Homo sapiens: one gene and its partners. The protein of the gene in region 7 purifies or fractionates together with the protein of the main gene of each other region. This does not show direct contact. Each region holds a gene or a part of one and is shown on either strand. Other genes may lie near its edges.

Region 1 (4,088 bases), on a different chromosome or scaffold from region 7:
ACCTATAATTCCAGCACTTTGGGAGGCCAAGGTGGGCAGATCCCTTGAGGCCAGGAGTTCAAGACCAGCCTGGGCAACATGGCAAAACCCCTTCTCTACCAAAAATACAAAAATTAGCCGGGTGTGGTGGGTACGTGCCTGTAGTCCCAGCTACTCGGGAGGCTGAGGTAGCAGAATCCCTTGAACCTAGGAGGTGGAGATTGCAGTGAGTCAAGATCGCGCCATTGCACTTCAGCCTGGGTGACAGAATGAGACCTTGTTTCCAAAAAAAAAAAGAGACACAGAGAGAGAATTGATGGCTATAGCCAAGTGCCTCAATCCATCAGTTACTTACTGAAAGTCATTTCTGAGGGGGTTTTGGGATGTTTCTTATTAGTGAAAGGGAACAAGACCTAGATAACATGCATGAAATTTTTTTAAATGAATATTAAATTTTATAATAGAAATTTTGGTAGAAAATAGAGAAGATAAATAAAACATTTTAGCATATGTACATCCTATCCCTAGATTCACAGATACATTATTTTTTCTGTTGGCATATGTTTTGTGATCTACTTTTTCACTTACTGTGTGGTTACTACTTCCCCATGTCGTTAAATAGTCATATATAATTTTTAATGGTTGCATAGACTTTGTTCTAGCCAGAAGATGTACTGTGGTTTGACCAATCCCCTCTTATAGGGCATTTAGGTTATTTTGAGTATTTTCTATCAATACAGCATTGGACATCTGCATAGATAAATCTGTCGACATAATTCTGATTATTTCCTTAGGAGAGAGTGCTAAAAAAAAAAAAAGGACTTGCTGGTCAAACAATGTACATATTTTTAAAGGCTATTGATAGATATAGCTAAATTCCTCTCTAGGAATTCTATATTAAGATAATAATTATTTCACCAGGCATGGTGGCTCATGCCTGTAATCCCAGTACTTTGAGAGGCTGAGGTGAGAGGATCGCTTGAGGCCAGGAGTTCAAGATCCCATCTCTACAAAAAGTAAAAAAAAAAATAGCCAGGCATGGTGGTACGCACACATAGTCACAGCTACTCAGGAGGCTGAGGCAGGAAGATCGCTTGAGCCTAGGAGTTTGAGGTTACAGTGAGCTATGATCATGTCACTTTACTCCAAACTTGGTGACAGAGTGAGACCCTGTCTCAAAATAAAAAAGATTCTTAAAAAGAAAGATAACTGTTAGAATTCTAACTGTAGTCAAATTGTGTCTTACACCATTCTGACTTAACTCTACAGTCAATAGTATGAAACTCAGCTCTGTAAATGGGGAGGAAACGGAAGGTTATTAGTAACTCACGAAGTACATAGTATCCTTTCAGCTAGAAAAGGGGAGCTTAAGGAGTACTATTGCAAATTACCCCAATGTTCTAATTGTTCAAATGCAAATTTTTGTTGATTAGTTTTTATTAACATGAGATAGTGCTGTGTACCCTATATGAAATATATTATGTGATTTTGTTGTAGTGTTTATATTAAAATGAAATTATGTGATTTGAATACTGAATTTTTTGCATATTGAAATGTTTTCCTTTTTTTACTTTTAGCCACATAAAGAAGATCCCTAATAGTCATTTCTCAACAATTATATAGTCAACTGATGTAACAATGGTACTAATATTGGGACGCAGACTAAACAGAGAGGATCTTGGGGTGCGTGATTCCCCAGCAACTAAGCGAAAAGTTTTTGAAATGGACCCCAAATCTCTGACAGGTCATGAGTTTTTTGACTTCTCTTCAGGATCATCCCATGCCGAAAACATACTCCAGATATTTAATGAATTTCGTGATAGCCGCTTATTCACAGATGTTATCATTTGTGTGGAAGGAAAAGAATTTCCTTGCCATAGAGCTGTGCTCTCAGCCTGTAGCAGCTACTTCAGAGCTATGTTTTGTAATGACCACAGGGAAAGCCGAGAAATGTTGGTTGAGATCAATGGTATTTTAGCTGAAGCTATGGAATGTTTTTTGCAGTATGTTTATACTGGAAAGGTGAAGATCACTACAGAGAATGTACAGTATCTCTTTGAGACATCAAGCCTCTTTCAGATTAGTGTTCTCCGTGATGCATGTGCCAAGTTCTTGGAGGAGCAACTTGATCCTTGTAATTGCTTAGGAATCCAGCGCTTTGCTGATACCCATTCACTCAAAACACTCTTCACAAAATGCAAAAATTTTGCGTTACAGACTTTTGAGGATGTATCCCAGCACGAAGAATTTCTTGAGCTTGACAAAGATGAACTTATTGATTATATTTGTAGTGATGAACTTGTTATTGGTAAAGAGGAGATGGTTTTTGAAGCCGTCATGCGTTGGGTCTATCGTGCCGTTGATCTGAGAAGACCACTGTTACACGAGCTCCTGACACATGTGAGACTCCCTCTGTTGCATCCCAACTACTTTGTTCAAACAGTTGAAGTGGACCAATTGATCCAGAATTCTCCTGAGTGTTATCAGTTGTTGCATGAAGCAAGACGGTACCACATACTTGGGAATGAAATGATGTCCCCAAGGACTAGGCCACGCAGGTGAGAAGACTGTTTTCAAATATAGTTAACAAAAGTTTTTAATATATCTTTAAACCTCCTGAATGCAATCTCAGTGTTGTCATTTATATGCACTGTCTACCTGTGGCTGTATATAATTTTAGATTTATTTTGGATTATATGTCACTAGAATGTCTTTCCTAGTGAATTCTAGATTCAACAGTAGCATTTTTTGTTATTGTTGTTTTGTGCTATCAAACAGTGTAGCAAAGGGTCTTTGCAACTGTGCATATCTCAACATATTTCTACTAATTTCTCTTAACCTTTGTAGGGCCCCAAACCATTCCACTTTTCTTTCCAAAGAGTCTTTGGATACAGGGTAGCTAAGATTTTAGTAGGCTCTCTTGGACTGCCTCTACTTATAAAAAAACAATTTGCTCCTGGGCACAGGGGCTCACACCTATAATCCCAGTACTTTGGGAGGCCAAGGTGGAGGAGCGCTTGAGCTCAGGAGTTCGAGACCAGCCTGGGCAACATAGCGAGACCTCATCGCTACTAAAAATAATTAGCCAGGCATGGTGGCACGGACCTGTAGTCCCAGTTACTCAGAAGGTTGAGGTGGGAGGACTGCTTGAGCCCAGGAGTTTGAGGATGCTGTGAGCCATGCTCTTACTGCTCTCCAGCCTGGGCAACAGAGTGAGACTCTGTCTCAAAAAAAAAAGAAAAAAAAATGTTTGCACATCCACAGACTGGCCTTTGTCCTAACACAGAAGCATGAAATATAGAGGTGAATTAAATAAGCTGGTATACATTGAGTGAATTCTGAGATGTAAAATCCAGGCCTCAAATATTACTTAATTGTCACAGTTATTATATTTAATGTCAATCTCAATTTTAAAAAATCTTTTTTCTGAATGTGAAAATTACATCATCATTATAGAGAATTTGGAAAATGTGTGCTTAGGGGGTAGAATGCAGTTAAATATTGTAGCATATTTGTATCTTCTTCCAGTATATTATTTCTATAAAATACTTATCGATTTTAATTCATAAACTATAGAAAAATAATCTCCATGCCTTAATAGTGGAAGGAATATTTATTGTGAATAAGCAAGAAATGCTTGTTATGAGAAATATTACAGTAAATTATCCTTTTAATCCTTTTAATATTTTTCTAACAAAGCTAATGTTGGTGTTGGTTTTTTTTTAATTGTGGTAAAAAACACATAACATAAACTTTACTGTCTTAATCATTTTTAATTATACATTTCAGTAATGTTAAGTATATTTACATTGTTGTGAAACTAGTATTTTTATTAGTTTATTATTGGTTTATTATTAAGCCATCTCCATTTTTTCTGTGAATTTACTATAGCATAGCTCATAAACCACATTTTTACTTAAATTTTGACTATCATTGTTTCGGAATGTTAAAAGTCAGCATACTGTGAGATAGCTTGTTTTTAAAATTTATACTAGTTTGAATAATGTATTAATTAAGAAAACTAAACAGCTTCAGAGCTGTGTGACTATTAGTTCTTCGAGAACTTTCATGAACACACAGTATCCCTCTAAAGGGAAAATCACTCCTTT
Region 2 (4,088 bases), on a different chromosome or scaffold from region 7:
AACGCAGCACCTCACCCTGTGTCTGGAGCACTGCCCATACTCAATGAATCTCTCTCTCTGGGAGAAAGCTCCCCTACCCTACTCAGGCCATAGCTCCTGACTGACCCCACTATAATGGCGCCGCAGCCTGTGACTGCCTCAGGGCAGGGACCAGGTCAGTCTTCCTTTATTGATTTTTTGACAAAATAGTTTAACAGATATATTTTGAGTCTCTCTTGCGAATTCAGCCCTGTACCAGGCACTGGGGATATAACTGCTCTGCGCTCAAAGTGTTCACAATCTTGTGGAAGAGAGAGATGGGCAATATATGCATAAAGAGATAAAATTATGAAATAATTAGTGTGCTATACAGAGCATGGTCAGAGCAGGCCTAACTCGTGAGGAGGGGAGAAGGAGCCGGGGAGGTGCGCTGTAGACACAGGGAACAGAAGAGCCCACAATGGCAGCCAGAAAGCTCAGGGCGAGCAGCATAACATGAAGTGGAGAGGAAAGCCAGATGCAGAATGAGCCTGGCCTCCTGCCTTATCCCCAGAACCTGACAAATATCCAATGAGTGACTGACAAATGCATGAATAAGTGGAAAGGAAAAAGTGGTTGGGAATCCTAATTCCCCCTGGAGACTGCTCTGGTTGGCAGCTGGCTGAGGCTGTACACTTGCCCATACCTGGCTCCATTCCCTGGGCCATTCCTGGTGTGGGGCTCTCAGCTCTCTCCATACTCTGTCCATCAGAAGGAGTCAATGTGCCATCAAGGCATTCGCTGCTTCTCTTCCTCTGCATGTCAGTAGCCATCCTTTGAGCTCTCCTGTGGGGCAAACAAATGCAACATCGATGGCTTTTGGCAGGGTCACAGGCATAATCAACAGTGGTAGTAAGTACAGGAAAGTGTCCTTTATCAGGACTCCACTAACTCAAATCTCTAGAAAATGGATTCTGAGAATTCCTTTCAAAAAAATATATACTGTTCCTTTTCTGATTATAAAAGGAAGACATATTCATTGTAAAAAAAAGACTTGGAAAGCACAGAAAAGTAGAAAGAAATATCAAGATTTTCCTACCATTCAGGATCTTTCACTGTTCATACGTTAGTGTATTTCCTTCTAGTATTTTTTTTTTTTTTTTTTTTGAGACAGTGTCTCGCTCTGCCGCCCAGGCTGGAGTGCAGTGGCATAATTTCGGCTCACTGCAGCCTCCCCCTCCGGGGTTCAAGCAATACTCGTGCCTCAGCCTCCCAAGTAGCTGGGACTACAGGTGGGCACCATCATGCCTGGCTAATTTTTGTATTTTTTGGTATAGACGGGGTTTCACCATGTTGGCCAGGCTGGTCTTGAACTCCTGACCTCAAGTGATCTGCCCCTCTCGGCAGATTGTTGTTGTTGTTGTTGTTGAGACAGGGTCTCACTCTGTTGCCAAGGCTGGAGTGCAATGGCACCAACACAGCTCACTGCAGCCTTGACTTGGGCTCAAGCAGTCCTCCCATCTCAGCCTTCCCAGTAGCACATGCCACAGCCAGCTAATTTTCTTTTCTTCTTCTTCTTTTTTTTTTTTTTTTTGAGACGGAGTTTCGCTGTTGTTACCCTGGCTGGAGTGCAATGGCGTAATCTCGGCTCACCGCAACCTCCACCTCCCAGGTTCAAGAGATTCTCCTGCCTCAGCCTCCCGGGGTAGCTGGGATTACAGGCATGCACCTGGCTAATTTTGTATTTTTAGTAGAGACGGGGTTTCTCTGTGTTGGTCAGGCTGCTCTCGAACTCCCGACCTCAAGTGATCCGCCTGCCTCGGCCTCCCAAAATGCTGGGATTACAGGTGTGAGCCACCGTGCCCCACCTTTCTTTTCTGAAACAGGTCTGGCTCTCTTGCCCAGGCTGGAGAGCAGTGGCGTGATCTTGGCTCACTGCAACCTCTGCCTCCTGGGCTTAAGCCATCCTCCCACCTCAGCCTCCTGAATAGCTGGGACTACAAGCACATGCCACTGCGCCTGCCTAATTTTTTTTTTTTTTTTTTTTTTTTTGAGATGGAGTCTTGCTCTCTCACCCAGTCTGGAGTGCAGTGGTGCGATCTCAGCTCACTGCAACCTCCACCTCCTGGGTTCAAGCAATTCTCCTGCCTCAGCCTTGCAAGTAGCTGGGATTACAGGCACCTGCCAGCACATCCAGCTAATTTTTATATTTTTAGTAGAGACAAGGTTTCACCATCTTGGCTAGGTTGGTCTTGAACTCCTGACCTTGTGATCCGCCTGCCTTGGCCTCCCAAAGTGCTGGGATTACTGGTGTGAGCCACTGCGCCCGCCTAATTTTTGTATTTTTTATAGAGACAAGGTCTTTTCATGTTGCCCTGGCTGGTCTCAAACTACTAGGCTCAAGCAATCCTCCCACTTCAGCCTCCCAAAATGTTGGAATTACAGGCATGAGCCACCATGCCCAGCCTGGTCTTTTAGAAAATGTACATAAAATGTAAATAATTAAACAAACTGATAGCAGCAGCTAACAGTTATTCAGTGTCAGCGTATCATGCTAAGAGGTTTCTGTGGATTAAGTTACCTAATCTTGATCACGCCTCTATGAGGCATGTGTTCCTGTCAGGCTAGCTTTATAGATGAAAGAACTGATACTGAGAGAGCTTAAGGAGCTTGCCCAATGTTACTACAGGAAAGAAGTGCTGGATTTGGATCTGGGAGTTGAAACAACTCTGTATCCTGTATCCAGTGGCTCACTCCTGTAATCTTAGCAAAGATTGGAGGCCAAAGAGGGAGGATCACTTGAGCTCAGTAGTTCACTAGCTGGGGCAACAAAGTGAGACCCTGTCTCTACAAAAAATTTTAAAAACTAGCCAGGCATGGTGGCATGTGCCTGTAATCCCAGCTACTAGAGAGACTAACATGAGAGGATCACATAAACCCAGCAAGTCAAGGCTGCAGTAAGCTGTGACTACAACACTGCACTCCAGTTTAGGCAACAGAGTGAGACCCTGTCTCAAAAAACTAAAACTAAAAATAAATAAAAATAAAAATTAACTAAGTTGACCAATAGTTCTTTTTGGATATCTAGGTGTTTGCAGATAAAAAAGTGAGACACAGGCAACAGGCTTGTCTTCAGGCTGCAGCCCTGCTTTTCTCTAAATATCCTTTTGTACCTTTTGAATTTGGCACAAGGAGTTGTCTTAACAATTAAAAACAACTATAGACATGTCAACTCTCAGTGCCCATGTAATGGCCAGGATAGATTCAGCCGGATCTCCTTGTCCTTCCACAGCCCCAGGCCCAGGTGGAGGTGGCCACAAGTGAATGTCAGTGGTAACAGAGCTAGCTGGGTGGCTCACCGAGGCTGGTAGCAAGGCTTATTTGGCCTCTAGGGTCCTTCAATGGCAGGCTGAAGGATCCTCACTTGTCAGGCAACATACAGTTCACCCAAGAGGGGATCCATTCCAGGTACCAATCCTTTAAGAAAGAGGGATCTAGCTGGATGGACTAGAAGGGCAGAGACTCATGGAGCAAACACTGCAGGCAGGCCAGGGGCCCAGGAGGCACTGGTGTTAGTGTGAGCAAAGTAGACCTGAGCCTGCATCCCAGAACACAGAGTCTGGTGGGAATAACTGAGCTCTTGTCCCCTCCTAGCTGTGTAACCTTGGGCAAATGACTCTTCCCTGGAAGCATGGCATAAAGTAGGTGTTCAAAAAAGTTCATGAAAAGGGTGGTCCCAAACAGATAGCATCACCATCAGTAGCATTTGTGTGGCATCAGCCAGTCTGTGTCCAAGAACATTCTCTCTGGACCTGGCATAGCTCCAGTCAGGCAGCTCCTATGTGTGTGCCCAAAGAACTAATTTTCAACCTCTTCTTTTTGTCACCTTTAAGCTATGTAATTCTTTCTTTAATTGAATCTTTTGCAGAAGCTCCACGTGCAAACAGATAGGGAAGCAGAGCCTGTATCCTGACAGCTGGCCTGGTGGCCACTCCTGCACTGAGCCTGAAGGACCGCAGAGCACATGGAGGGTTGGGCACCACTGCCAACAGCATCACCCCACACAGAATAAAACCAAAGAAAGAAGGTTGGGGAGATAATCTGGGGATTTTCTAGGCCCCCAGTCCCAT
Region 3 (4,088 bases), on a different chromosome or scaffold from region 7:
CCCCTTCTCTACTAAAAAAACAAAAATTAGCCAGGCATGGCGTGCATCTGTAATCCCAGCTACTCAGAAGGCTGAGGCAGGAGAATCGCTTGAACCCAGGAGACAGAGGTTGCAGTGAGCCGAGATCGTGCCACTGCACTCCAGCCAGGGTGGCAGAGTGAGACTCCATCTCAAAGCAAACAAACAAACAAACAAACAAAAAAACTCCCTTTATGGTCTCTCTAAGTAAGAAAGATAAATATTGCCCACCTCCATCCTTCACCCTGTATGATCAGAAACAAGAACAAAAGGTGGTTTAAGTTGCTCTGCTTAAGAGGAATTTAGAGTTCTGCAAATGTGGAAAGAGAGGCTGAATAGTGAGATAAGGGGGCGCTATTGGGGGATGTGGGGAGCCTGAAAAACAGAGGGCCTAACCACATTAGTGAGAGGCTAAGAACTTAAGGTCAAGGACAGCCCTGAGAAATTCCCAGAGGCAAGTATGACTGAGAGTCTGATTAGTGCAGAGATGTCTATTTTTAAATATCAGGGTTTTTGTTTGTTTGTTTTTTAGTATGCACTGGTGAAAAAAAAAACAACCTGTTTCTGGTAGCCCAAGCTTTGACAAAATGTCCCATGCACGCTATCTTCTAGGTATGCTTAGGGTAAAACAAGGAAAATGTGTTCTAAGTTCAAGTCATTTTGAGGTGAAGAGAAGAAAACAGCTGCAGAAGGTGAAATCTAAGCAGGAGTAGTATTCAGCGGAACAGAGAACTTAAAGCGGCCTCTTGACATGGTTGTGCATGCCTATAGTCCCAGCTAGGATCAAGGCTGAGGCAGGAGGATGGCTTGAGCCCAAGAATTTGAGACCAGCCTGCTCAACACAGCAAGACCCCATCCCTATTTAAAAATAAATAAATAAATGAGACTGTTCTGTTTGGATATTGTAAATATAGACTATTTGAAAAAAAGAATAAGAAGTAACCTTGTTATAAATCTCTGGAAGCTCAAAGAAAGCTTGGGAGTGTCCTGTATGGCATACCTACCTGGGATGGGGGCTCAGCCACTTTATTCTATTTTATTTATTTATTTATTTATTTATTTATTTATTTATTTGAGATGGAGTCTCACTCTGTCACCCAGGTTGGAGTGCAGTGGCGCAATCTTGGCCCACTGCAGCCTCCACCTCCTGGGTTCAAGGGATTCTCCTACCTCAGCCTCCTGAGTAGCTGTGATTACAGGCGCCCACCACCACGCCCAGCTAATTTTTGTATTTTTAGTAGAGATGGGGTTTTGCCATGTTGGCCAGGCTGGCCTTGAACTGCTGACCTCAGATGATCCACCCGCCTCAGCCTCCCAAAGTGCTGTGATTGCAGGTATGAGCCACCATGCCTGGCCTCAAGCCACTTAATTTTAAATCTTACAGGAAAGTAAGATCCACAAAGATGGAGAACATGATGAACACTCAGGTTGCAAATATCTTAGATGCCCATTTCTCAGCCTGAAATCTGTTTCATCCTTTGTCATTATAATTCTAAACATTTAAATGTTATACCTAAATAATTAAACTGTATTATCAATTCATTCATTCTCCTACCTTTCTTGTCAATGATAACAAAATCTCATCAGAGAACATCTTGAAGTCTGTGTATTTCCCTAAAGATCTCCGGTAAACATGGTTATTGAGAATCGTGTAATGAACAATGGCACCTCTCTCATCCCCAAACCTTTTGGGGACTTCTTTTAGCATTTGCTGGAGATTGATGCTGGGAAAGGAAGCAAAATCTTTTGCAATCTGTGGTTCCTTGGTTGGACAAGAAAGAGTCTTCTGCCAGGCCTGAGGATCTTCCGGACACTCACAGTACTCATGGTACACTGGTCCTAGGGAAGGAAAACATGAAAAAGGCCGCACTCCATTAGCAAGCACCACAACACAGGGAGTCACTTCTGTCTCTGCTTCTTGGTGAATTCTAAGATTATCCAGAGATAATCTGCCCTAGACAAATCAGTGGTGTAAGTGATTATGTTAGAGTCCTACACTTTTACTTTCCTTTTCACACCACCTTGGATAAACAGTTTAGTATATGCCCTCTCCCAATCTAACCTACTCTCGGTCACTTAGCTCATAAATTCATCTCTAATAAGGTATAAATGGCTGGCAAACATGAAACAACTTACCTTTTAGCAAGGAGAAAAAGAACGTATTAATTTTTAGACATTATGTAAACCAAAAATAAAATTCTAAGCCTCCTAGACCGTCCAAATGGATCCCTCCTTTTGGCCAAGGGCATTCCAAAGTTAATCTGAAAAACTAGTTCGGCCACGAAGGGAAAGGGGAACCAGGCATGCCTCATTATACCCTCCTCCCTTTTGGAATTCAGGCCTAGCTGACCAGCATTAACATCAACACAAACTTTGTTGAACTGACTCTTTAAGTCTGATAAGAAACATTTGCAATCTCCTCTGTCGCCTGCTACCTGGAAGCCTCATCTGCATGATAAAATCTTGGTTTCCACAAACCCTTATCATAAGCCCAGACATTCCTTTCTATTGATTCTAAGTCTTTACACAATAACTTAATTCTTTCAACCAACTGCCAATCAGAAAACCTCTGAATCTACCTATGACCTGGAAGCTACCCCCAACCCCTCCCAACCACCCCCACCCCTTCCAGTTGTCCCTCCTTTCCAAACCAAACCAATGTACATCTTAAATGTATTGATTAATGTCTTATGTCTTACTAAAATGTATAAAACCAAGTTGTAGCCTGATCACCTTGAGCACAGGTTCTCAGGATGTCCTGAGGGTTGTGTCATGGGCCATTGGTCATTGAGTCTGAGAGATGGGGGAACAATAAGGTAAGCCCTACAATTCCTACAGCTTACTGCTTAAGGGAGCTTCGAGGCTGTAGTGCAGGGAGGGAAACTGTAGGCAAAAACAGGTAGTCTCACTGAATTGAATATTTGGCTCAGAATAAAGCTCTTCAAATATTTTAGAGTTGGACTCTCTTCTTTTTTCTTTCTTTCTTTTATTTTTGTTTTTTGGTGGCAGGGGGACAGAGTCTCACACTGGCTGAGACTCTGGCAGAGTCGCCCAGGCTGGAGTGTAGTGGCGTGATCTCGGCTCACTGCAACCTCCTCCTCCCATGCTCAAGTGATTCTCCTGCCTCAGCCTCCCGAGTAACTGGGATTACAGGTGTGCACCACCATGTTTGGCTAATTTTTGTATTTTTAGTAGAGACGGGGTTTCACCATGTTGGCCAGGCTGGTCTCAAACTTCTGACCTCAGGTGATCCACCTGCCTCGGCCTCCCAAAGTGCTGGGATTACAGGCGTGAGCCACCATGCCTGGCCATAAGTTTGACTCTTTTCATTGACAACAAGTAACAGGGACTGATGTACCACCCCACCTGAAACAACCAGAAAACACTCCCACAAAACATATGAAACAATAGTTTTTTGTTGTTTTTGTTGTTGTTTTTTTGAGATGGAGTCTCACTGTGTTGCCTAGGCTGGAGTGCAGTGGTGTGATCTCAGCTCACTGCAACCTCCGCCTCCTGGGTTCAAGTGATTCTCCTGCCTCAGCCTCCTGAATAGCTAGGATTACAGGCACTCACCACCACGCCCAACTAATTTTTTGTATTTTTAGTAGAGACGGAGTTTTGCCATATTGGCCAGGTTGGTCTCGAACTCCTGACCTCAAGTGATCCACCTGCTTCGGTCTCCCAAAGTGCTGGGATTACAGGCGTGAGTCACCGCACCTGGCCTTAAACAATAGTTTTTAAGGCACTAGGTATTAGGCAATGAAGGACAGTGAGTCTGAGAGATGGGGAACAAATAAGGTAAGCCCTACAATTCCTACAGCCTACTGCTTAAGGGAGCTTTGAGGTTGTAGTACAGGGAGGGGGACTGTAGGCAAAGCCAGGCAGCCTCACTGAGTTGAGGAGACAGAGCTGGCAGTCCAGGGAGACCAAGGCAGCTCTAGACTTTGTAGGACAGAGTATCTAAAAAGGAAGCACTGCACAGAGAGAACGTTAGAGATCTATAGAAGGTCCTCTTCACATATTGAGCAGAGCATATGATCAGTGCATTTTGGATGGGTTCTTCCCCTGTA
Region 4 (4,655 bases), on a different chromosome or scaffold from region 7:
TGCAGGAATGTCTGAGGTCTCAACCTTCGTTTCCCCAGTAGGTATTGTCTTCCCAGTGCCCAGATCTGCCCTCAGGAGGCAGATCCGCTGCACCTCTGCCCGCTGCACGCTACATTCCCATTTCACAGAGCAGCAGACTGAGGCTCAGAAAGGGTGACTGGTCTAAGCTCATGTGTCTGGGCAAGGAGAGGAGGCAGAGAGCCAAGTCCCCTTGGGCGCTGAGCCCAGTGCTGGGTGCTGGGGTGATCTAGAGATGTGCCTCATTCAGACTTTGGTTTTTCTTTTTTTTTTTTTTGAGACAGAGTCTTGCTCTGTCGCCCAGGCTGGAGTTCAGAGGCGCGATCTCAGTTCACTGCAACCTCTGCCTCCCAGGTTCAACAGACTCTCCTGCCTCAGCCTCCGGAGTAGCTGGGATTACAGGTGCGTGCCACCACGCCCGGTTAATTTTTGTATTTTTTAAGGTCGAGGCGCGGTTTCACCATGTTGGCCAGACTGGTCTCCAACTTCTGACCTCAAGTTATCTGCCCACCTTGACCTCCCAAAGTGTTGGGATCACAGGCGTGGCCACAGCGCCCGGCCGACTTACCCTTATTTTAATGCAGTTGATTTAACTGTACGATTACAGAATTTACCTGTAATTTTTTTGTTCATGTCAGAAGAGTAATGTGCCGATGTCGTAACAAGGTTTGAGGGAGGCACATCTCACGCATGCGCGTGAACACCCAATCATCCCGCTTAGAAACTACAAAAGGATCTAGCTGTAAGTTTAAATTATGGCTTCGTGTAACAATAACCAGCTCACAAATCCCTGAATTTTTAATGACCTGCACATCAGTGTCCCACCTGTGGGCTGTTCTGTGTGGTAGAGCCCACGTTGTGCTGGGGCGGGGAGCGGGCTCAGAAGCCTGCCATCTAAAGTCTAGACACTTCACTTTATTTGAATTGATGAAAATTCCGTTACGTATGAGCAAAGGCATATGAAGAAAACAAAAAAACAAAAAACAAGAAATAAGATTAAGCTCCCTTCACTCTCAATTTTAATCAGCCCAGGCCTCCCCCATTCCAGAAATTTGGACCGACCCTGACTCCGCCCCAACCTGTTCTAGCACCGCCCCTTCCCCCGCCGGCGCCGTCGTCATGACAACCGCGTCCACACGCCCTCTTCTCCTAGGTGTGGGGGAAGGCTGGCCCTCAGTGCTCCCATTGGCCAAAAGTTTGTAGAGGGCGGGCCTCGCTCACTCTCATTGGTCAGTTGCTCGCTGTGGTCCCATCCCACATGCTTCCATTGCTTGATTCCTCGAAAAGGGCGGGGACTCTGGGCAGCGGTTGTGGAGTGCCGCGGGTCCACAGTGCTGCACTGAGCAGAGAGGAAGGGGCGTCCCGGGATATTTGGAGGATAAAGGTGTGGGCAAGGTATCATGTGGAGGCAAAGGGGCGAGAAGTGAGGGGCGGTGAGAGGGGAGCGGGGCGGGCAATGTGTGCGATTCCCAGAATGTCTTTTCCGCAGGGTGATGACCACACCTGCCGGCTCCGGCAGCGGCTTCGGCTCCGTGTCCTGGTGGGGCCTGTCCCCGGCGCTGGACCTGCAGGCTGAAAGTGAGTCCCAGCACGCAAGGTCTGATACACCGTCTGCCTTCCCAGCCTGAGCAGACGGCCTTTTAGAGCTCGTAGTCCCAGCGTCGGTGGCAAGGGGGGCGCTAACGTTCTCCAACGCTCCAGCGGCAGAGGGCGCGCTCCCAGGGGCAGCCCCGAGGTCCTGTCTGCGGACTGCGAATCCCAGAATACTCAGAGGAAACACCTCCCCTTAGAACCTAGGCCACGGGCGGAACGCCTACTGGGATTTGTAGTCCATTTTTTATAGGGGATGCTACGGTGGACGCTCTGCCAACCACCATGGTGCCCCAGCCAGCTGTCATCTTGCCAGGTCCTCCTGTGGACCCAGACTCCCAGGCCGATACAGTGCACAGCAACCCCGAGCTAGATGTGCTGCTTCTGGGCTCTGTGGATGGACGGCACCTGCTGCGGACCCTGTCCCGAGCGAAGTTCTGGCCTCGCAGGAGGTTCAACGTGAGCTGGGATGAAGATGAGAGCCCAGATTCCCGAGTCCTTGAGGGAGGAAGGGATTGAAATTCTAAAACCTCAGGTCCAGGAATGAAGGGGCTGGAGACTCCTAGATCTGAGGGAGGCAGAAGCTGGGAGCGAACCGATGCGTCTTGGGGGAAGGAAGGGGCTGGGGTTTGGAACTCCTGGGTTCTATAGTGGGGAAGAGCTCGAGGATGAGGTCTTCTGAGTAATGGAAGGGAAGAGAGCTCTGGGGACACAGACTTCTGTGTTTGAAGGAAGAGGCTGGTGTACAGAACTCGGGTGTGTGGAAGGAGAGAGCTGAGGGCCTGCTCTCCTGGGTCTCCTAGGACCCAGGCAAACAGGTCTCAGAATTATTCTGCCCTGTCCATCCTTCTAGTTCTTTGTGCTGGAGAATAATCTGGAAGCTGTGGCCCGACACATGCTGATCTTCAGCCTAGCCCTGGAGGAACCGGAGAAGATGGGGCTGCAAGGTCTGTTGCTAGGACCCAGGCATTCTGACCGCTGGTCTCCTCCCCCTCCCTAGAGGGATTCTGGCATTTCAATGGTACAATTAAAAAGTTTGGTTATTTTCCTGGGAGGCGGAGGTTACAGTGAGCCGAGATCGCGCCATTGCACTCCAGCCTAGGCAACAAGAGCGAAACTCCGGCCGGGCGCGGTGGCTCACGCCTGTTAATCCCAGCACTTTGGGAGGCCGAGGCAGGAGAATGGCGTGAACCCGGCAGGCGGAGCTTGCAGTGAGCTGAGATCGCGCCACTGCACTCCAGCCAGGGTGACAGAGCGAGACTCCGTCTCAAAAAAAAAAAAAAAAAAAAAAAAAAGAGAGCGAAACTCCATCTAAAAACCAAAAATGTTTGGTATTTTCCAGTGTGGTACCTCTGATGAAAAAAAAAATCCAATATATTTATTGATGATGGTCCCCTCTGATGTAATTTGCCATCTTAGAGCCTCAGCTCCTCCTACCTGTAAAATGGGGCTAAATATAATACATCTTAGAGCCACTTAGAAAATTCCAGGAGAGGCTGGGTGCAGTGGTTCACACCTGTAATCCCAGCACTTTGGGAGGCTGAGGTGGGCAGATCACGAGGTCAGGAGATCGAGACCATCCTGCTCAACATGGTGAAACCCCGTCTCTACTAAACATACAACAATTAGCCGGGTGTGGTGGCAGGCGCCTGTAGTCCCAGCTACTCGGGAGGCTGAAGCAGGAGAATCACTTGAACCCGGGAGGCAGAGGTTGCAGTGAGCCGAGATCACACCACTGCACTCCAGCCTGGGCGACAAAAGCAAAACCTCCATCTAAAAAAAAAAGAAAGAAAGAAAAAGAAAACAGGTTTGTTTGTTTATTTATTTATTTATTTGAGGCAGAGTCTTGTCCCGTTGCCCAGATTGGAGTGCAATGGCACGATCTTGGCTCTCCATAACCTCTGCCTCCTGGATTCAAGCAATTCTCCTGCCTCAGTCTCCCAAGTAGCTGGGATTACAGGCATGCACCACCATGCCCGGCTAAGGTTTTGTATTTTTAGTAGAGCCGGGGTTTCACCATGTTGGCCAGGATGGTCTCGAGATGCTGACCTCAGGTGATCCGCCCGCCTTGGCCTGCCAAAGTGCTAGGTTTACAGGCGGGTGCGATCACACCCGGCCCCAAGAAAAGAGGTTTAATTGACTCACAGTTCCACAGGCTGTACAGGGAGTATGGCTGGGAAGGCCTCAGGAAACTTACAATCATGACAGGAGGCGAAGGGGATGCAGGCATCTGTTCCACGGCAGGAAAAGGGGCAAGAGAGGCAGTGGGGAAGAGGCGCACACTTGCAAATAACCAGATTTTGTGGGAACTCACTATCACGAGAACAGCAAGGGAGAAATCTGCCCCTGTGACCCAATCACCTCCCACCAGGCCCCGCCTCCAATATTGGGGATTACAATTCAACATGAGATTTAAGCAGGGACACAGATCCAAACCATATCAGTCATTAATGACCCAGGGAATTCAGAGTACATTGCACAGTACAGATTGTTCAAAGTTCTTAAACAGTTAGAACTAAACTGATCTATTTTACTAAAGGCACATAGTTCTCTTCTATTAAGTTCTTAAACAACTAACATGAAACTATTTGTATGTCTATGTGTATATATATTATATGCAAAGGTATATACAGTCATCCCTCAGTAACACTGGGGACTGGTTCCAGGACCCCTGCAGATACCAAGATCCAAGGATGCTCAAGTCCCTTATAAAATTGTATAGTATTGCCAGGGGCGGTGGCTCACGCCTGTAATCCTAACACTTTGGGAGCCTGAGGTGGGAGGACTGCTTGAGACCACGAGTTTGAGACTGGCCTGGTCAACATAGTGAGACCCCGTCTCTACAAGAAATAAAATATTGGCCGGGCGCGGTGGCTCACGCCTGTAATCCCAGCACTTTGGGAGACCGAGGCAGGCAGATCACGAGGTCAGGAGATCGAGACCATCCTGGCTAACACGGTGAAACCCCGTCTCTACTAAAAATACAAAAAAAAAAAAAAAAAAATTAGCCGCCGGGCGCGATGGCTCACGCCTGTAATCCCAGCACT
Region 5 (4,088 bases), on a different chromosome or scaffold from region 7:
CTACTTAGGGTCCCACAAGGCCAGAATCAAGAGATTGGGCTAGGCTTTTGTCTGGAGGCACTGGGGAAGAAGCCACTTCCAGGGCCATTTAGGTTATTGATAGAATTCAGTTCCTTGTGGCTATAGGACTGTTTCTCATTTTTATTGGCTGTTGGCTACAAGTCACTGCCAGATCCTTCCCACATGTTCCCCCCCACCTTCAAACAAGCAATGGCACACTGCATTCACTTGGTTTTTTGAATTTCTGACAATCAGCTGGAGAAACCTCTCTGCTTTTGAAGGTTTGTTTGATTAGATTAGGCCCGCCAAGGTCACCTCCCTTTTGCCATATAATGTAGCATAGTCATGAGAGTAACACCAGGGGATGAAGGTCATGGGGGATGAGGAGTATCTTAAAATTCTGCCTACCACAGCGAGGTGGGCAGTGAGTTTCATTTCAGATTAAAGTTAAGGTTGAAGAGCCAGCAAGACATATTTGAGGTAGAAATTGGGTATATGTCTGAAAATATATATTTGAATTATCACAAATCTGTGGAAAGAATGGGATATGCTTAGGGAGAGAAAGTGTAGAGTGACCCTTAGGGAACTTTATAATTTAATGATGGAGTAAAGAAGGCACTGATGAAGCTGAAAAGCACTAGCCAGAGACGTAGGAGTGGACTAAAACGTATGATGTTATGAAAACCAAGAGAGTTTTGAGGAGTAGGAAATAAGCCAATGATGTTGTCTGCTTTTGTCCTTTAAGGGGAGGGACAATTATGAGGCATACTTACTTTATTTCCCTGACCTAACATCGTTACATTCTAGAGAACACATGTACTTGTTCTCACACACCTGAACATTTTTATCAGCACAGTATTTGGTAAGTCATAGCTTTATACCCAAGAGAAAAGAGGTTGAGGAGCTTGAAAGTGAATGATAACATTATCCTTAAGAATTCTTTTGTTGGATACTCTCTGGTAAATTTAGAGTTAGAATCTCAGTGAAGCAGCTGCTTTCTCCAATAATAATAAAAGCTAATACTTCATAGAACTAAATATGGGCCAGACATTGTTCTTAGTGCTTTACATGTATTAACTCATTAATATCCATCTATGTCTCAGATGAGACACAAGATAGTAGAGGTTTATAAATTATCCAAGCTAGTGACAAAATAATAGTTTGATAATAGTTCAACTTTTGATTGGTGCAGTGTGTTTTTTAAGAAATTGAGTTTTTTTTTTGATCACTGTTAAATCAGCTTTTAACATGGGCTAAGTCTCTTACTTTTAGAGAGAAATAAATACGCTTCAGAAATAAAGCAACGTGACATAAAACTTGTAATATAAAATTTAATACTCTTTTGTGTGGTATAATGAAACCCTGCAACAAAATGAGCTCTGTAATTGCATGGATTTGTAAGTGAGATTGGCTTCTGACCTCCGCTGCAGAACTTCTCTGTCAACTCATTAACCTCTCAGTTATGCCGCTGTGTGTGCACTAATTGAATATTTTGAACTCTTTTATACTATTTTGTTGGGTTATATTTTATTGTTTTGAGTTTAAAGTAGCCTGTGTAGGCTATGCACTGTACAACTTCAGGGGGCAGTATTCACATAGAGTTGCACAGTTTGGCAATTCTGTAGCCATCTAGTCAAAAGCTTTGATAGATCTAAAAATAATGGAAACAAACTATACTGTTTGAAGGTTAACATGATAAATGATTTGCATTAGCACAATTTTTTATATGACTTTTTTTCCTGGAAACAAACTCATTTGCTAAAGTATGTTTTATTGTCTTTGCAGGCGAGGAATTGCCTTGGCTTCCTTAGGAGGCCCAATTTATGCAATTGGAGGGTTAGATGACAATACTTGCTTCAATGATGTGGAGAGATATGACATAGAATCTGATCAGTGGAGTACAGTGGCACCAATGAATACTCCCCGTGGAGGAGTTGGCTCTGTTGCTCTAGTAGTAAGTTATATGGCAACTTGTCATTAAATTACATTGCATTACATTCATAACCAAAATAAGGAAAGGTCCAATATATCATCACCAGTATGAAGATATTATATATCATATTATTTCCTGAAATACTGCCTTGTACATTCTAATTTACCATTAAAACAATATATAAATAAATTCGAAATCTAATGTGTTTTGTTTGACTCTCTTCATTTAGAACCATGTTTATGCAGTAGGTGGCAATGATGGAATGGCTTCTTTATCTAGCGTGGAGAGATATGATCCACATCTGGATAAGTGGATAGAAGTTAAAGAAATGGGTCAGCGAAGAGCAGGCAATGGAGTTAGCAAGCTTCATGGTTGCTTATACGTAGTTGGTGAGTAAATGGGTATTTCTCTAATATATCAGTATATACAATGACAAGTGTCATATAACAGAGTAACAAAAATTACATTGCATTTAGCCTTAAGTAGAATCGGTCCTGAAATGTGCTTTTGAATTCTTTCTTACAAAATTTTGTTTATAATTAACAGAGAATTGTACATGTTCAGTCTGATGCTTTTGAATTCTTTGTTTTTTTTTTTTTCAGAGGGAGACAGTGTCTTTCTGTTGCCCAGGCTGAAGTGCGGTGGCACAATCGTAGCTCACTGCAGCCTTGAACTCCTGGGCTCACATGATCCTCCTGCCTCAAGCCTCTCAAGTAGCTAGGACTAGAGGCCCAGGCTATCACACCCAGCCAGTTTTTTTCTGTTTTTTGTAGAGATGGGTTCTTGCTGTGTTGCCCAGGCTGGTCATGAACAACTGGCCTTAGGTGATCCTCCTGCCTTGCCCTCCCAGAGTGCTGGGATTACAGGCATGGGCCATCATGCCTAGCTGAATTGTTAAGGTCACATTCATAATTTTTGTTTAAATCTTCATCTTTCATGTTTAAAACATGTACAGCCTTATTTTTCTAAGAGTAACAAATTTATTTAAAGAAGGGGATTACATTTAAATAAGGTATATGTTTTTAAATGGAAGGACACAGATTGAATGTGCTTTGCTACAATAAATTTTAAAAGGTCTCAGATTTGTTTTTCTCAACCTCATTTCAAGGGAAATTATGTTGAATACTTCAAGTAAGCCAGTAGGTATTTATTTATTTATTTTTGAGATAGAGTTTTGCTCTGTCACCCAGGCTGGAGTGCAGTGGTATGATCTCAGCTCACTGCAACCTCTGCCACACATGTTCAAGCAATTCTCCTGCCTCAGCCTTCTGAGTAACTGGGATTACAGGTGTGTGCTACCGTGCCCAGCTAATTTTTGTATTTTTAGTAAAGACAGGGTTTCATCGTGTTTGCCAGGCTGATCTTGAACTCCTGACCTCAAGTGATCTTCCTGCCTTGGCCTCCCAAAGTGCTGGGATTACAGGCATGAGCCACCACACCTGGCCTAGGTATTTCATATAAATAAAGGTCATGTCAATGTTTATATTGCTTTTTTTTTTTTTTTTACTTTAACAATCTTTTATTACCAAACCCCATGCAGGTTTAACGCTTTAACCCACCTAACAGCAAAAAAAGGCATTGCTAACAAGATCAAGGATGAAGGTACAGACCCAATAAAGATTGTGTCTTAAAAAAGAAGGATATATATATATGTGTGTGTATATATATGTGTGTATATATACGTATATATATACACATATATATACACACACATATATACACGTATATATACACACATATATATACGTATATATATACACATATATATACGTATATATATACACACATATATACACACATATATATACATATATATATCTTTTAAAAAATAAAAATCTCCAGTGTTGCAGAAAAAAATATTATAAATTGATTTCAGTCCATAAAAAACAGCATGCAGCAGTTTGTGCTATCTTAAAAACCCCAACTCAGGATAACCCTAGGAGAAAATCACCTCCCCCCATTAAAGAAGAATTCTCTTTTCTATTCTTTCTTGTCTAAATTTCACTGCTTATTCCACAAAACGCCGAAAGAATAACAAGACTCAGTTCACATCCCTCAGCCCTTGTCTGTCTGTTAAGGCCAACACCAAGCGCTGTTCCTTAGGAGTCTTCACCTTTACTACAATCAGAAAATTGAGCCCTAATTTCACGGCCAG
Region 6 (4,088 bases), on a different chromosome or scaffold from region 7:
TTAGCTTCCTGGGTTATATGGTAATGCCACATTCTCTCCCCTAGTCCCCTGGGAAAATATGGGTATGCTGTAGACAGGGAACGTGATCCTAGGTCTCAGAAATGTACATGGATTTTAATTCTCCGGATCTTCGGTGAAGAAAGAGGAGGAGGAGAAAAACAAGCTTTCAGGCAAACCACCTGATCTGAAATGAGGCAGGAAGGAGCAGCACATGGAAAAAGCACAGAGAAACTAGCAGGTATCAGACTCTGGAACCGGTTTTTTAAAAGGAGACAGACAATGAGGCTGGATCTGGGCGTTTTCTATTCAAGATCACTGAAATACCGTGAAGGTGGTCGGGCGCGGAAGCTCACACCTGTAATCCCAGCACTTGGGGAAGCCAAGGTGAGCAGATCACCTAAGGTCAGGGGTTCAACACCAGCCTGGCCAACATGGCGAAACACCGTCTCTACTAAAAAATATAAAAATTTGCTAGGCCTGATAGCACACACCTCTAATCCCAGCTACTTGGGAGACTGAGGCATGAGAATCGCTTGAACCTGGGAGGCGCAGGTTGAAGTGAGCTGAGATCACATCACTGCACTCTAGCCTGGGCAACCAAGCCAATGAGACTCAGTCTCAAAAAAAAAAAATCAAAGCAATATACTAAGTAAATACATAAGGGTAATATATACTCTGCTTGTGACAAGTTTTTTTTTCCACTTTTTGGTAGAGACAGAGCCTCATTATATTGTCCAGGCTGGTCTCCAAGTAACTCCTGGCTCAAGCGATCCTTCTGCCTCCTCCTCCCCAGTAGCTGGGACTATAGGTATGTGCACCACGCCTGGCTTAAAAGTCTTTTTGGTATTTAATATAACAGCTTTGGAATAAGCAATTCCGTCAAAACGTGCTGTTTTTCTTTTTCTTAGACAGGGTCTTGCTCTGTCACCCAGGCTGGAGTACAGTGGTGCTATCATAGCTCACTGCAACCTCAAACTTCCAGGCTCAAGTGATTCTCCAGCCTCAACCTCTGTAGTCTCTGTAGTTGGGACTCTAAGTGCACACCACAATGCCCAGCTATTTTTTTTTTTTTCCATTTTTTGTAGATACAGTCTCACTATGCTGCCCAGGCTGGTCTTGAACTCCTGGTCTCAAGTGATCCTCCTGCCTCAGCCTCCCAAAGTGCTGGGATGACAGGTGTAAGCATTGGCGCCTGTTTTGCTTGAAGGTTATTTTTGTTGCTACTTCCTGGGACTGACCTTTCCCCACGAGCACACTGGAGGTGACAACAGAACAGTTCTGTGCAGCCACCAGAGCTGTGCCCTGCTCAACCCCTCAGATGCTATTCCAAGATGACGATGCCAACAGGATCCCCAGAGCTGGGCGCCAGATTGTCCTGTGACTCCAGGCTTCAAAGGGCCAACCCTGCTGGTCACTCTGGCTCCAGGGTCTCCCAGAATGAGCTCCTGGAAGACCCTCTGCTCTAAGCCTTCCCTCTTCCTCACTCTCAGGAGTTTGCACCCATGGCGGGGCTTGTGTTCTGTCCCAGAGATCAGAATCTCAGCTACCCTTCTCTTTTTGGTGGAAGCAAGGCCATGGGCCACTACTGCTGGATTCTGGCTTGTCACATGACATCTCCCTATCGCTGTGGCTGCGTGTGACTTGCAAGCACGTCCTGTCATTTCCATCTGTGGAGGAGCCATCCCTCTGCAGACCTGATGCTACAGAAGCACAACTAGCCTCCCATCTCCTACATTTCACAGCAGAATTTCACTTTAGTAACATTGTGTACATATCACAGAAAGCAACTATAGCTGAGTCAGTACAGTGTAAGGTTGCCTGATAAACTATTTGTCAAATTAGAAAGTAGGTGGAGGCGGGGCACAGTGGCTCACACCTGTAATCCCAGCACTGGGAGGCCAAGGTGGGCGGATCCTTTGAGGTCAGGAGTTCGAGACCAGCCTGGCCAACATGGTAAAACCCCATCTCTACAAAAAAATTAGCTGGGTGTTGTGGTATGCACCTGTAATCCCAGCTACTCGGGAGGCTGAGGCAGGAGAATTGCTTGAACCCAGGAGGCAGGGGTTGCAGCAAGCCAAGATCATGCCACTGCACTCCAGCCTGGGCAACAGAAAGCGACTCCATCTCAAAAACAAAAAAAAAAGTAGATGGGTTTCACCCGAAATTTCTGTTGTCTTCCTAGGAGATAAAGTTCATGTGGAAACCCACCAAGTTGTTTATTAACTGGATTCAAATTTCTTTACAGTAACTTGTTTCTCTTCTTAAAATGGAGCTACAAGATTTTGGCAGGGAAGGTAAATTTTAGGGGAACTAGTTTTGCCTTTTCTATTAGCTGAATTTACCTTATAGTAGTACCATATGGCCACACCCCTAATTAAGAAACTGGGCTAGGCCAGGTGCAGTGGCTCACACCTGTAATCGAGGCACCTTGGGAGGCCTATGCAGGGGAATCACCTGAGGTCAGGGGTTTAGGACCAGCCTGGCCAACATGGTAAAACCTTGTCTGTACTGAAAATACAAAAATTAGCCGGGCATGGTGGCATATGCCTGTAATCCCAGCTACTTGGGAGGCTGAGGCAGGAGAATCGCTTGAACCCAGGAAGGGGAAGTTGCAGTGAGCCAAGATCGCGCCACTGTACTCCAGCCTGGCAACAGAGTGAGACTCCGTCTCAAAAAAAAAAAAAAAAAAGAAAGAAAGAAAGTGGGCTCTAGTCAACGGGAACATAAAACTTGAGGGTCCCAGAACAGCTGCAAGCCTTGATGACTTCTGTCCACCTACTCTAGGCCAAATGTGCACAACCTCGGTTGCCACCCAGCTCTCAGGGGTCACATATGCTGGGCAGTCTTGTGCCCACGTTGTTCCTACTGCAGGACACAAACCTAGTTTCACGATAGCAGGTAATTTCCTGGTTTATATAACACTTTGGATTTCTTGGATTAAAAAAAAAGAAATCTAGTTTCTTTAAAAGAAAGTAGGTGCAGTGGCTCGTGCCTGTAATCCCAGCACTTTGGGAGGCTGAGGCGGGTGGATCGCTTGAGGCCAGGAGTTTGAGACCAGCCTGGGCAACACAGTAAACCCCGTCTCTATAAGAAAGAAAAAAAAAAAAAAAGGTATAAAAATTCTGCTTTTATCATTTCAGAAAAAAAAAAAAACTCCAAAATAAAAACAGGATTCCTAAACCTTACTTGATAGGAACATTTTCTCTTTTTTTTTTTTTTTTTTTTTTTTTTGGAGACAGAGTCTCTCTCTGTTGCCAGGCTGGGGTACAGTGGTGCCATCTCGGCTCACTGCAACCTCCGCCTCCCGGGTTCAAGTGATTCTCCTGCCTCAGCCTCCTGAGTAGCTGGGATTACAGGCATGCACCACCACGCCCAGCTACTTTTTGTATTTTTAGTAGAGACAGGGTTTCACTATGTTGACCAGGCTGGTCTCCAACTCCTGACCTCGTGATTCACCCGCCTCAGCCTCCCAAAGTGCTAAGATTACAGGTGTGAGCCACCGTGCCCAGCCTTTCATCTTTCATGCAACCAGTTTTAAACTCCTCTGCTTGGAAATTTGAACCCAAATCACCCTAGTTCTGCTTTAAATAATCACTGCTTTATTTTGACAATATCTATGAAGATGCTTCCTACCCATCCTCCCCGCTGCAAGTTCCTGTTTGACAACCTGTCATCAATCCAGTCACTGCTGTTTTTATTATCTTAATTTCTTCTTTTAATACCATGCCTCGGGGTGTACCTACCAGATGAGCTGATCGTTATAGAGAAAAGCAGTGTATTTGACTATATTCAGGCTTTCCTCCATTCTATTAATAAAGGACTGGATTTTCAAATAAGTCATTTTATCCAACGGGAAGAAGCTGATTCCACCAAAAATGTCAAGTAGGTCACATGACTGCAAATGTAGCGTTTGCAAATACTGTGGGAAAAAAAATAAGGCATAAAATTTACTAATAGTACACTGAATATAATGCTCCTTGATAACTGAAAATAATCTTATGTCAGACTCACATTTATGGTACAATTACATACTAGCAAACAGCGCAACAATGAGGCCGTGGTGAAGACATGGGTAACTGAGTGCCAAC
Region 7 (4,344 bases):
TAGTCCTCGTTCAGAGGTGCATCCTTCTTTTACACCTGGGGCCAGAGAGGAGGACCTGGGTTAGGAGGGAAAGTGAGCTGGTTATTTCCCTTACTTTTCTGCTTCTTCGCCTCCTTTAGGTCCCGTCTGAGGTGCCCCTGACCGTCCCTGCCCTCACCCCACCCCGGATCCCGGCAATGCTAACCGCTGTCTGCGGCTCTCTGGGCAGCCAGCACACGGAAGCGCCGCACGCCTCCCCGCCGCGCCTCGACCTGCAGCCTCTCCAAACTTACCAGGGCCACACGAGCCCTGAGGCCGGGGACTACCCCTCCCCGCTGCAGCCTGGAGAGCTGCAGAGCCTCCCGCTGGGCCCGGAGGTGGACTTCTCGCAGGGCTATGAGCTGCCAGGGGCCTCCTCGCGGGTAACCTGCGAGGACCTGGAAAGCGACAGTCCCTTGGCCCCGGGCCCCTTTTCCAAGCTCCTGCAGCCGGACATGTCACACCATTATGAATCGTGGTTCAGGCCGACTCACCCAGGCGCGGAGGATGGCTCGTGGTGGGACCTTCATCCGGGCACCAGCTGGATGGACCTCCCCCACACTCAGGGCGCGCTGACCTCACCTGGCCACCCGGGGGCGCTTCAGGCGGGCTTGGGGGGCTACGTCGGAGACCACCAGCTTTGTGCCCCGCCACCCCACCCGCATGCGCACCACCTCCTTCCAGCTGCCGGAGGGCAGCATCTCCTAGGGCCGCCCGACGGGGCTAAGGCCTTGGAAGTAGCCGCCCCGGAGTCTCAAGGGCTGGATTCCAGCCTGGACGGGGCGGCGCGTCCCAAAGGCTCCCGGCGGTCGGTGCCCCGCAGCTCAGGCCAGACCGTCTGTCGCTGCCCCAACTGTCTGGAGGCGGAGCGACTGGGGGCTCCATGTGGGCCCGATGGGGGCAAGAAGAAGCATTTGCACAACTGCCACATCCCGGGCTGCGGGAAAGCCTACGCCAAGACGTCGCACCTGAAGGCGCACCTGCGCTGGCACAGCGGCGACCGTCCCTTCGTGTGCAACTGGCTCTTCTGCGGCAAGCGCTTCACGCGCTCGGACGAGCTGCAGCGCCACCTCCAGACCCACACCGGCACCAAGAAGTTCCCCTGTGCAGTCTGCAGCCGCGTCTTCATGCGCAGCGACCACCTGGCCAAGCACATGAAAACCCACGAGGGCGCCAAGGAGGAGGCGGCTGGGGCGGCCTCGGGAGAGGGCAAGGCCGGCGGCGCAGTGGAGCCCCCCGGGGGCAAAGGCAAACGCGAGGCCGAGGGCAGCGTGGCTCCCTCCAACTGAGCTCCTCAGTGCCGCCTCCCTGCGGGTATCCCGGGGGGCACTGGATGCGAGCCCCCAGGTCTGACGTCCTTGGGGGTGGCTTGAGGAAGAGGGGAAGGTGCGTATTTATTCAGGGAGGAGGAAAAGTGGTGCAGGGACAGGGAGATGGGGCGCTAGGGGTTCTTAGTCTCTGGGGCTACTAGGCAGGATGAATTTGACTGGGTCGGTAGGAGCTGCGCAATGCCCCTCTGTTCTCCCCTGCCTCACAGTTTCCCTCGCCCCTGGGCTGGGGGGTTGGGGTGGGACACCCGTACCGCGGCTGGCTGGCGGGGACAGGCTAGAGGAGACAGCAAGTCCCAGTCCCCGGAGCAGAGAGAAGTGGGGCCGGCCCGGGGCGCTGGTGGTGGCTGTCTGGACACGTCCTTAGCGCCTGGGAACCAGGACATAAAAGCGCCTCCGGAGCCGCCCTGCGGCGGGGTCCCTTTCATCCCACTTAAAGTGCTTCTGCCCCTAGGGTTTCCGGAGGGAGAGCCGAGATGGGATGGGGGAGCCTGGGGGTCCCCCTTGGCAGGGGTGTCTCTTTCTGGTTTGGAGGGTTGTTGCTGTAAAAATAACTCCTTTGATGAGCTTCCTTATTAACCCTTTCAGACCCAGTCTGTTGGAGCCATGAAGGAAGAGGGAAAGAGGGCTGCCATTCCTGACAGCCTCCCAGCCAGGGCTGGCGATAAAGGACCGAGATAGATGGAGGGGGCGAGTAGGGAAGTCCTCTTCTAAAATGAGAGATAGGGATTTGGTGGGGTATGGAAGGAACTAACCCCTTCCCTCTCCACCTCTGATTCAGCCCTTAATTCTTGGTCTATGATAAATAAAGTTCAGTAGTCTCACATTCCCCATCTATTACCCTAGGTGTGTTTTCAAGGCAGCCAGCGGTAGAATCCATGTAGTTCCCACCAGTTGCCTTCCCCTCAGGGATGGAAGGAAGAGGGTTTCTTGGGCTGGTTGAGGGCAGATTGGGGGTGTCTCATCAGAGGGACCTCCACTGGTTCCCACTCAGAGTGGAGGCCTGCAGCCTACCTGACCATCTCTTTAGCTGTCACCAAGAAAATAAACCCCACTGTCTCTCTAGCTTGGCCCTTGTCTTTCCCTTGCCCCTGCCATAGCATGTTCATTAGGGGATTCCTTCCTCCCCCTCATCTCACAGGGGAAGGGAGAGGAAAGAGTTGTTCTCCCACTGGAAGGGGTTCTGCCTTCTGAGGTGACATCCAGGAAGCTGTCCCCATTCCCTTCTCCTTTAGATGCTAGAAACACATTTTGATTCTGATCATGGGGTGGGGGAGAGAGGAAAGGAGGGAGGGGAGAAGCCCAGCAGAAGCTGAGCCAGGCAGAGGGGAAAGAAGCTGATATGAGGAAGGGTCTGACAGGCCACAGCCCTTGCAGCCGGAGGGCTTTCCCACACTCAAGAGAGGGGCCTTACAGTCCCTCTGACACCCCTCCCCCTTCCCCTCGCTCCCTTTCTTCACCCGGAGCCCTCTGCAGAGATTAGCTGTGTATTGATTTTTAAGTTATAAGCAAAGGGTATTTTATTTAATATTAGGTTATGTGTGTGCATGTTGTGTGTACCTGTGTGCATGTATGTGTGTTTCTCTACTGAGCCTGGGGTCTCTAGCCAGGGAGACCCCATCTTATTCACCATGTCCAAGATCCTGGGATCTGGGCCCAGCATCTCTTCCTCCTTTGTAGATGCTGGAGCCCAGCCAAGGTCTGGGAGCTATATGGGAAGTGGGGGCTGGGATCTGGGTGGGAATATGTGTTTGTATACAAAGGGGCCCTCCTTAAAAGGGACAGGATGACCTTCCCGAGGAACTCATTGGCCTGGGGTAGTTTAAGAAGTAATGTTCTTTCTTTCTTTCTCTTTTCCCTACCTCCTGCTAACCCAACCAGAGATCCCCTTCCTTGCTGAGAGGGTTGGGGGCAGGAGGAGATTTGGCAGTGCCTGCAGGTTGCCTGGCCAGGTGGAGAGGGGGAAAGAGGAAGGGCACCGTGGGTGTAAGATGCCTTTCTCCTCCACCCATCGAAACCAGCCACCCCTTCCCTGTGCCACCAAGACAGCCTTTTCCAGTGGCCATCCTAAGGGGAACTCCCAAATGGGTGTTGCTGGTGGACACAGATGCTCCCCCCAATGGAAGCCCCAAGCTCTGAGGTATGCGGGTAGAGGCTTTGGATAGGTTTTCTTCTGCTCCCCTCTTTTATAGATCTAGGCTGCTTGGCTGCCTGTCTTTCTAGGCAGTCCCCCTAGAGGAAAAATGTAGGAATTTATTTTTTCTTTAACTGCTGTGAACTCACTTTGAGGGGGTAGGAGGAGGGAGAAACAGCCTGTGTTTTTTATGCAATAAAGTCATCAACTACATCATGCTTCCTTTGTGTTCCAGCTCTGTTTCCTTTTTGACTCAGTGTCCCTCAGCAGTGAGGACCAGGTCTGGGCCACAGAGTGGGGTGGATGCTTCCCAGTGATCCTGCAGCCCCTTGGAAAGCCTCATGTCTATTGAGTTGGGTTGGAGCTGGGGTCTGATCCTGCCCCAGAGGTGGCTGGTACAGAAGGAGGGAGGTTCTTCCTCTGGGTTGGTACCCGGGCTGTCCCTCCCTGGTCTCATACCTGTGGTTATGAGAAGTTTCTAGATATCTCTTTCCTCTTCCACATACAAGCCCCTTCTTTCCCTTCCCCTGCTAAGAACACTGGTTCCCTCTTTCCCAGGCACTGGCTCCCTCACTCCATCCCCATAGAGGGTGCATGTCAGTCCATCCCCTGCCTGTGACTGAGCTGGGGGTGATTGGCAGTGATTACTTCACCCAGGATGATCCTTATCAGGGACAAGGCGATGAAAGGCAGCCGAGCTATCTGATGGGCTCCTGCCCAGCTGGAAAGTATGAGGGAAAGGCTCCTACTGTAGCTCACAGCTAGAGACCCACCATGGTTACACAACCACAAGGCACACAAACATACCCGCACTGGACCCACGTGCACCCGCCCCCAGAGATATGCAGAAATATCTATCTGTAC

What was found.
Region 1: the proteins of SP6 (region 7) and KLHL24 purify together in Homo sapiens (affinity purification with mass spectrometry; one large-scale study listed by BioGRID and IntAct). This does not show direct contact.
Region 2: the proteins of SP6 (region 7) and MON1A purify together in Homo sapiens (affinity purification with mass spectrometry; 3 studies listed by BioGRID and IntAct, with this or other methods). This does not show direct contact.
Region 3: the proteins of SP6 (region 7) and POGLUT3 purify together in Homo sapiens (affinity purification with mass spectrometry; one large-scale study listed by BioGRID and IntAct). This does not show direct contact.
Region 4: the proteins of SP6 (region 7) and DNAAF3 purify together in Homo sapiens (affinity purification with mass spectrometry; 3 studies listed by BioGRID and IntAct, with this or other methods). This does not show direct contact.
Region 5: the proteins of SP6 (region 7) and KLHL8 purify together in Homo sapiens (affinity purification with mass spectrometry; one large-scale study listed by BioGRID and IntAct). This does not show direct contact.
Region 6: the proteins of SP6 (region 7) and CCZ1 purify together in Homo sapiens (affinity purification with mass spectrometry, with the first as the bait; 3 studies listed by BioGRID). This does not show direct contact.

What each region holds. Positions count from the first base shown.
Region 1 is NC_000003.12:183,648,740-183,652,827, forward strand, and holds part of KLHL24 (kelch-like protein 24), read left to right. Parts: intron 1-1,556; 5' UTR 1,557-1,617; coding exon 1,618-2,537; intron 2,538-4,088. UniProt on the Homo sapiens protein: Necessary to maintain the balance between intermediate filament stability and degradation, a process that is essential for skin integrity.
Region 2 is NC_000003.12:49,912,556-49,916,643, forward strand, and holds part of MON1A (vacuolar fusion protein MON1 homolog A), read right to left. Parts: intron 805-4,088; 5' UTR 792-804; coding exon 665-791; intron 1-664. UniProt on the Homo sapiens protein: Plays an important role in membrane trafficking through the secretory apparatus. Not involved in endocytic trafficking to lysosomes.
Region 3 is NC_000011.10:108,484,584-108,488,671, forward strand, and holds part of POGLUT3 (protein O-glucosyltransferase 3 isoform 1 precursor), read right to left. Parts: intron 1,858-4,088; coding exon 1,574-1,857; intron 1-1,573. UniProt on the Homo sapiens protein: Protein glucosyltransferase that catalyzes the transfer of glucose from UDP-glucose to a serine residue within the consensus sequence peptide C-X-N-T-X-G-S-F-X-C. Can also catalyze the transfer of xylose from UDP-xylose but less efficiently.
Region 4 is NC_000019.10:55,163,270-55,167,924, reverse strand, and holds the start of DNAAF3 (dynein axonemal assembly factor 3), read left to right. Parts: upstream 1-1,511; coding exon 1,512-1,596; exon of another isoform or gene 1,597-1,861; coding exon of another isoform or gene 1,862-1,924; coding exon 1,925-2,067; exon of another isoform or gene 2,068-2,077; coding exon of another isoform or gene 2,078-2,143; intron 2,144-2,461; coding exon 2,462-2,555; intron 2,556-3,124; exon of another isoform or gene 3,125-3,381; intron 3,382-3,416; exon of another isoform or gene 3,417-3,838; intron 3,839-4,655. UniProt on the Homo sapiens protein: Required for the assembly of axonemal inner and outer dynein arms. Involved in preassembly of dyneins into complexes before their transport into cilia.
Region 5 is NC_000004.12:87,168,313-87,172,400, reverse strand, and holds part of KLHL8 (kelch-like protein 8), read left to right. Parts: intron 1-1,785; coding exon 1,786-1,954; intron 1,955-2,162; coding exon 2,163-2,322; intron 2,323-4,088. UniProt on the Homo sapiens protein: Substrate-specific adapter of a BCR (BTB-CUL3-RBX1) E3 ubiquitin ligase complex required for The BCR(KLHL8) ubiquitin ligase complex mediates ubiquitination and degradation of RAPSN.
Region 6 is NC_000007.14:5,904,925-5,909,012, reverse strand, and holds part of CCZ1 (vacuolar fusion protein CCZ1 homolog), read right to left. Parts: intron 3,920-4,088; coding exon 3,744-3,919; intron 1-3,743. UniProt on the Homo sapiens protein: Acts in concert with MON1A, as a guanine exchange factor (GEF) for RAB7, promotes the exchange of GDP to GTP, converting it from an inactive GDP-bound form into an active GTP-bound form.
Region 7 is NC_000017.11:47,844,262-47,848,605, reverse strand, and holds the end of SP6 (transcription factor Sp6), read left to right. Parts: intron 1-119; 5' UTR 120-176; coding exon 177-1,307; 3' UTR 1,308-3,698; downstream 3,699-4,344. UniProt on the Homo sapiens protein: Promotes cell proliferation. Plays a role in tooth germ growth. Plays a role in the control of enamel mineralization. Binds the AMBN promoter.